Homo sapiens: one gene and its partner. The protein of the gene in region 1 interacts with the protein of each later gene in a pairwise test. Each region holds a gene or a part of one and is shown on either strand. Other genes may lie near its edges.

What was found.
Region 2: the proteins of KLF15 (region 1) and TCF21 interact in a two-hybrid assay, tested with the Homo sapiens proteins (one large-scale study listed by BioGRID and IntAct).

Annotation. Positions count from the first base shown.
Region 1 is NC_000003.12:126,350,600-126,354,408, forward strand, and holds part of KLF15 (Krueppel-like factor 15), read right to left. Parts: intron 2,349-3,809; coding exon of another isoform or gene 2,324-2,348; coding exon 1,242-2,323; intron 1-1,241. UniProt on the Homo sapiens protein: Transcriptional regulator that binds to the GA element of the CLCNKA promoter. Binds to the KCNIP2 promoter and regulates KCNIP2 circadian expression in the heart. Is a repressor of CCN2 expression, involved in the control of cardiac fibrosis.
Region 2 is NC_000006.12:133,887,332-133,891,240, reverse strand, and holds the start of TCF21 (transcription factor 21), read right to left. Parts: upstream 2,129-3,909; 5' UTR 1,844-2,128; coding exon 1,394-1,843; intron 1-1,393. UniProt on the Homo sapiens protein: Involved in epithelial-mesenchymal interactions in kidney and lung morphogenesis that include epithelial differentiation and branching morphogenesis. May play a role in the specification or differentiation of one or more subsets of epicardial cell types.

The DNA of each region.
Region 1 (3,809 bases):
GAGTATGGTCAAGAAAACAAAAGCTGCAAACTGCTCCCCGGGTGTTGCACCCACACATAACACATGCACACACAGGCAGCCACACATGGTGCACAAACACCTAAGACATGTATGTGTGCAAACACATATGGTCACACGGCACAGACAGACACAAAGAAAGCAAGATGCATACACATGTGGGTGTGCACACACACAGCCACACACCTGCTGGCGAGGCCCAGGCCTGTATACACCCCCAGGGATACAGATGAGTGTGCCCCGTCTCACACACGTAGCAGCAGCCACAGCAGCAAAGATTTGGAATGTGCCAACAGCACACAGCGCCCCCCAGGCAGGCCAGAGATTCCTTTGGGATGGGCATCAGGAACTGCAGAGGGCTGGCTCTGGCACCCCGGAGCACATGAGCTCTTCGCAAGCAGCCTACATTTCAGGAAAAGGTGGACAGCCACTCCCAAGGAGGTTGAGCAGCACCCGGTGCTCAGGGAAGGGTGCTCCCTGGTTGGGAGACTACCAGTTACCATTTGAGGCCTGATTTCCCCACTGCCATGCAGACCAGACAGCCTGGGTTCTGCCACCTGTGACAGCACCACCAGCTGGCCTAGCCTCCCTCTGGGTTGGCCTTTGCAGCCTCCCAAACATGCTTCCACGTCCCCAGGGAGGAAGCATAGGCGAGGCCCAGCCCATGTGTCCAGAGACATCTGTGAATGAAGCTAGTCCCACTGGTTGGGGAAGCAGCATTTTCAGGATGTGACCTCTCGAATCCGGCCTCTGGGTTCAAATCCCATTCACAAAGCAGAGTGACCTTGGGCAAGTACCTGGCCAGTCGGAGCCCTAGTGTCCTGTGATGTAAGTTGGGAGTGATGGTGGTACTTACCCTGTGGGGCTGTGGGCCCAAAGGGAGCCGCTGCCTGGCCCCTAGACCGCACTCATCCTTCCTCGCCAGCCCCTCAATCCCCACCCTTGTCAGACTGGATGGGGAGACCCAGCTGGCAGCACAGGCCAGTGAAGCCTTACCTGGCCATCAGGAAACTGGACACCAGTTGGCTTCCGGCTTCAGGAACCAGGAGGACCAAGGAAGCCTCCAGGCAACTGTGCCAGCTCTGGGCCTGCACCCGCCTGCCCCTCCCTCCCCTCCCTCATCTACCTTCTGTTAATGGTGGAAAATGGCCCTGCTGCACACCCAAGTAAGCAGACATGAGTGGCTGTGCTCACTGCCCAGGCCTGTCACTCGCTATACTGACCTCCAGCCGCAGCCTGGCCAGGTGCAGGCGAAGGGCTTCTCACCCGTGTGCCGGCGCAGGTGGGCCTTGAGGTGGCTGCTTTTGGTGTACATCTTGCTGCAGCCAGGGAAAGTACATTTGTGCATTTTGATGAGTTCTGCGGCTGGGTTCTTGGGGAACTTCTGGCCCATGAGGAGACCGGCAGGGCCAGGCCCCAGGGGTCCCGATCCAACAGGCTTGGCGGCAATGGGCACAGGGGCAATGCGCACAAACTTGGAGGGCAGGTTCAAGTTGGAGGAGGGTACCACCTGGGGCACGAGTGCGAAGGTCTGCCCCTGGATGTTGACCAGGAGCTGGGCAACCTTGACATTCTCTGGGGCTTGCCCAGGGGAGGCAGGCCCTGTGCCCGATTCCTGCTTCACAGGCACGGGCTGGATCTGCAGCAACACTGGGATGGGGCCATCAGGCGTGGGGCCCCCACCTGGGCCCTGGGCACCTCCTGCACTGGCACCACCTGGTGGAGGGGAACAGCGCTCTCTCCCGCTGGACCCAGGATGGAGGTGGCTCTTGTGTGGCCCAGCTGAGAGCTGGCTGCAGGCATCCAAGTCCTTGCTGTTGCCCTCAGGGACCTCCTTGACTCCAGGCTCCATGTTCTCCTCCAGAAACTCTTCAATCTCCTCCAGGGTAGGCTGGAAGGGCCGTGGGACGTCATCAGGATCACCCAAAGGAAACTCGGGCAAGCAGAAATGCTCCCCCTTCACAGGGGCCGCTGCCCTTCGCCAGGGCCCCCAGGCCACGGGGCCACTGCTGGCCCCAATGCTACTGCCGCTGCCCCCGCCACTGCCCAGCGTGGCCTGGGACAATAGGAAGTCCAAGATGCTGTCCTGGCTCTCGGTGCCCAGGCCTCCACCATAGCAGGAGCAGAGGGCTTGAGAGTCGGGACTGGAACAGGAGCAGGGGCTGGAGGCATCGCTGTCATCTTCAGAGACGGGTGAGGGCAGCATGTGATATGCCCGCCGGCCAACCAGCCTATCACCCAGATACCCAACTGGGCATTTTGGCGACGAGAAGTTCTCGTCCACTGGAAGTAAGTGGTCCACCATGCTGGCCTGGCCGTGCCGGTGGCGGCTGCAGGAAAGGAACACAGGAGGCCTGGTCAGAAGGACAGTGCTCACCTGCCACCTCGCAGGCCTCTGACCCCACCCTCAGCTGCCTGCCCACAGCCTCCTATTGCCAAACGCCTGGATCCTGCTTCCATCCCCCAGGAGAGCTGTGCCTGCAAGAGTGTTTTCTGAAATTGCACCACCTGTTTGCAAAAGAGACCTCTCCAAGCCCATTGCATAACCAGGGGCACTTCTGGTTTCAAACAGATTTTCCAGAATTATCCTGGAAAATAGCACATATGTCTGTGAACAACTGAGTATGGGTGAGTATGAGAGAAGGGCATGCGCGAGGAGGCTCTCTGGACCCCAGGAGGGCCAAAGCCCTGAATCAGCCCACCGTCAACATCATAGGAGTCACTGTACATCTGAGGACTCCTGACCTCAGCTTCACGCCTGTTGAGTCACAGAATGGGGGTAGAACAGCCATTTGCCCTCTGACCCTCATGTTGCTGAGGCTTCCAGAGGGTTGCCAGATTACGCAAATAAAAATACAAGCCAACAGTTACATTCGAATTTCAGATTTAAAAAATAAACTATTTTTAATATAAGTATGTTCCCAATATTGGATAGGACACACTTACATTTAAAAATTATTTCACCTGAGATTCAAATTTAACTAGGCCGCCTGCATTTTAACTGGGCAAGTGTAGCATGTAGGCAAAACAGTCAAAGACCAAAAAGTGCCTGCCTGCGCAGCTGTTTCCCCACCTAAAGCTCCTCCACTCTCCAGTCCTCAAACCCCTCTGAGCCTTGACTGCCCTGTGAGTGGCACAGGCTTGAACGCAACCCTCTCACCTGCACCCTGATGCTTGAGCATCCTGGTGGCCAAGGCCCTGCCCCTCTGGTGATAATCCGTGGAGTGGAAGCAGACCACTGGGGTCCCAGAGCACCCGCATGTGCCTAACTGCCTTGGACTTCACACCCATCTAGTGGGAAAGGAGACAACCACCCCCCCAGCCCATCCTGACCAATAAGGAAGTGGAGTCCCCTGCACTCTCTGCCATTGCTCTCTCCATCTGGGACACTCACCGCCTTGCGAAGGTTCAGCTAATGCCTGTCTCCCCCTGAGACAGTGCACTCCATGTCTCTGCTGCGTCCCCAGTGCCTGGACTGGCCGCTGGTGCCCAGCAGGGGCTCAGAGAACTTTGATAGAGAGGAGAAGGGAAAGCTGCATCCTCTGAAGCCAAGGACATGCTAGGTCTGGTGCCAAGGAGAGTCAATAGTGTCCAGCTGTGACGGGGCCACCTCTGTGAACCTTTGTCCCTGCTCAGTGACCAGGGCAGGCTGGGTGTTTATCAAGCTTGGGGAAGGGGAATGCTCTGCACCAAAGTCAGAGGTTCTCTGCTGCCCAGCATCACCTCTACACCCAGCCCCTCTGTCTCCAGGACCCCTTCAGGGCCTGGCACCCGGCACTGCCCAATGGCCA
Region 2 (3,909 bases), on another chromosome or scaffold:
TCATCGCCTTTCATCACCATCTATTTCCCTAGTCCGACTTTCGTTTCTTCCATCGCAAACACCGGCTTTGACTACAGCTTCTAGATTAATCACCACCTCTTAAGGAAAAAAAAATGCTATACTACATTGACTTTTAATTTAAGATCGTCTTCATGCTGGACTGAGAAAGTATGCTTTCTCTTCCTTTCTCCGGGCTGTTTTATAATAAAGCTCATTTAAGTTTCTTATTCAAAGATGAAGAGAGTAGCAGTTGTAAATATTCGAGGCAACACTTTCATTTTAGGTGGAGATTTTAAAAAGCTATTTACTCATTGGGGGGGAAAAACCCCAAACTTTCAATTGGAGAGAAAACATTTTTCATGGTAAAATGTGGGTTTGCATCTTCTTCTCCAGCAATTCCAGAAACCAATTCGGTGAGAAGACAATTCAGACCCCTCTCACTACTGCTCTAGTGCTAGCTGATAAGACTTGCCTTTTAAAAGGAAAAATCTCTCATTCTTATCATATACAAACAGAGATCCTAGTAAGTTGTTGTTATTGTTTTTCTTTAGATCTTAGAAGTTTTAAAATAAAATCAAATGAAAAAAATTAAGATATATTTCTTAAACAGTAAAATACATTTGAGAAAAAAGTAGACTCAATGATTATCAGTTTTTTGTGTTAAAAAATTAGGCTCAATGGGCATTACTTTTTAAGATAAAAGGTAACATTTCTTAAATCTTGGGTGAGAGTGACCTATTTTAGTATTTATTACACTCATACTAGTGAGGATTTACTGATTTTGCTGATCATTACTAGAACTTCTGGGATTTAAAAATATTAATCCACTTATAGGAGAAGCACAGAATATTTAAGCGGTTAAGGGCTTACGTGGACAATTTGGGGGGCATAGATGTGTCCTTATCCAATGGTCCTAAATATGCTTGTGAAAGAAACGGAGTTGGGTGTTTTTATTTACAAGGAAAGGAAAATCAAGTTCCACTCTCTGCTAAAAGAAGAAAAAAGGATTAACAAAATGCCTGTCCGCTCGCAGCGTCTTGTCAGTGTTCTCAGTTCCGCAGCAGCCACTGCACCCCAGGGAGGATGGCGATGGAGCGGGAGCGGGGGATCCCTCCTCTGTGCCAGCTCAACACACTTGCAAACTTTTAATTGGGCTGCCACGTCAAACCCTCGCATAAATCACTCCCGCTCCGGGGGCTGGTAGGGCAGAGAGCGAGGGCCGTGTCTAGACCGCCCGCCTCCGGTCCCTGGAGGCTCTAGGCCCGCGGTGGTCGAGATGTGTAAGTCACCGCCGCGCCCACACCCCCACTCCCAGCCCCGCGCGCACTCGCGCCCACCGCAGGCGGGAGTGCGGGCGCGCCTGGACTGCAGCTGCAGCCCCGGGAGCACTCACCAGGTTGACCGGGTGAATGTACCCGTTCTCGTATTTGTCGTTAGCCAGGATCTGCCTCAAGTGGGCGATGTAGCTGGACGCCAGCCTGAGCGTGTCCAGCTTGGAGAGCTTGGTGTCGGGGGGCACCCAGGGCAGGGTGGTCTTGAGTCTGGAGAAGGCCTTGCTCAGCACTCGCATGCGGGCCCGCTCTCGCGCGTTGGCGGCGTTGCGCTGGACCTGCTTCCCCTCCTGGCTGACCCCGCTCAGGGGGCTCTTCTTGGTGGGCGCCTTCCTCCTCTTGCCCAGGCCGCCGCGGCCCTTCTGGGGAGACCCATTCTCGCAGTTGGAGCTCTCCTCGGTGCTCTCGTTGGAAGTCACAAATTCCTTGTTCGAATCCATTTTCAACCCGTCACATTCCAACATCTCCACCTCTTGAAGGTCCTCCACATCGCTGAGGGAGCCGGTGGACATGTTTGGGGGAGTGGACGAGGGAGAGAGAGAGAGAGAGACAGAGAGACAGAGAAAGCGAGGAAGAGGGTGAGAGAGAGACAGAGAGACCCTGAAACCAAGAGGCCTCCCGAGTGTGGCGCAGCCACCTCCTGCTGGGAGCTGGAGTTGGGGTCTGGTTGGGTCTCACAACCCTTTCCCCTTCGCAGAGTTGTGAGAAGGAACCCCGAGGACTTCTGCAGCAGAGGAACCGGCTCTCTGTTTCCCCACTCCCAGAGTCGTGGCCGTAGAGGAGGGTGAGCGAGCGCTGAGGAATTTGGTGGACACTAGGAATTTATCTGGGGAATAGAGGGGCGGATCCTTGCAGCCCAGGGAGGGGCCTGCCAGGCCCCAGCAAAGCGCTTAGACCCCTTTCACAACCGGAGGGAAACTCAATGCACAGACCCTGATTTGCAACTTGTAATGTAAATCAACTCAACTGCATCATGTACTTACCAGCCACCTTCTCCCAACTGTGGCCGGGGCCGAGAAGCAGCATGTTCTGTCCATCTGTAAAAGGCCTTCTTTCTCTCTTAAGACGTCACAACTGGTTGTTACTGAGAACTTTAGAAAAACGACTAGATCGTTTGGCTCTTTCTGGGCCTTCCACCTACACTCCATGCCCTCTCTCCTCCCAAGAAAACACGAATTAAAATACAGGGAGTATCAACCGCATCCTGCCAACACCTCATAAGACTCCAAGGCTTTACCGAGATCTTCCACCTTCCCCGGGATAAATGAAGACAAGTGCTTCCTAGAATCTTTATGGTGATGGAAAAGTAAGTATAAAACATTTCACCTACACCTGGTCATTTTCAAGACATCAAAGGACTGCCTACGTGTACACAAACATACTTGATTTGCACACTCAAACCCAACCACACACAGCTTAGTGGGAGTGGGTAGGGAATGAGAGGGCAGTATGAGTGTGTGGAAAACATTATGTTAGTTGATCATCTTTTCCTAATAAATGGAAACTTTCCCCTCGGTTTTTTTTTCTTTTCTAGAAATGCATTTAATATTGCCTTGAGAGTCTTTGTTGCTCTCAGACATCACCTTGCCTGGCACTTTTTGTGATGCACCGTCCCTTTCAATGCTGCTGTCTTTGTCTTCTTCCAGCCTGTTAGGTGCCAGTGTTCCTCACATGAAGCTGACATTACACAACACAAAGCAAGACTATCCTTTTGAGAAAGGTTCTTTTCCATCTTTAACCCCAGCTCGAACCACCTTTCCTAGAGAATAAGAAAGTCTCCTGGGAAGTAGGTAGAAAAAGCACAGGGAAACAGAACCTAGGGATTGGATGAAATTGGTGCAATGAAACCAGGGAGACTGAAGGCATAAATCTCTCTTACAATTTCTTTGCCAGGTTTTCTTCCCTTGCAGGTAGGCATTGAAGTTGAGGGGCTGGAGCAAAATGTAAGAGTGGTTTCTGAGTGGTTGGCTTAGGGTCTGAAGGCTTCTCCTACATTAAGATATCATATCTCTAATCCTAGGCTCAGCTGGGAATTCACTAACCTCTAACGTTTTGTTTTGCTAGCAGGGTCTTGTTTGCTTTCCCCCTATGCTGTAAACTAAACAGGTTGTCAGCAAATCAGTCTTTATTAATGAATTAGCGACCCCTCTTCCATAATATCTTCGCTGAGGATCCAAAATTTGTTAATCACCAGTGTAGAGATTTATGAGCTCTCTTATTTTCTGTTGTTTGTGCAGGTGGAGATTTAAATGACCACATCCACCCTAAGATTTATTGTGAGAATGATTGATGTTATAAACCAGGAAAAGGACTCTTCCCACAGCAGGGATGACAGAAATATCAAGTTGAAGTTGCCTTTGTCTTCACATACGAATGACCCAGTACTACAACACAGAAAGTATAATAATTTAATCTGAGGTTCAAGACAGCAGTGAGAGAACACCCAGCAGGCCTGTTAAAAATTTCTTCACTAATTCCTCAACTAGTTTCCTTTGATTTGCTCTCCCTTTTCTCAGTCTTGGTAAAACATGAAAGTTAAAGTTATTTTTAGACTAAAGAGCTATGTGAAAATGGGCAT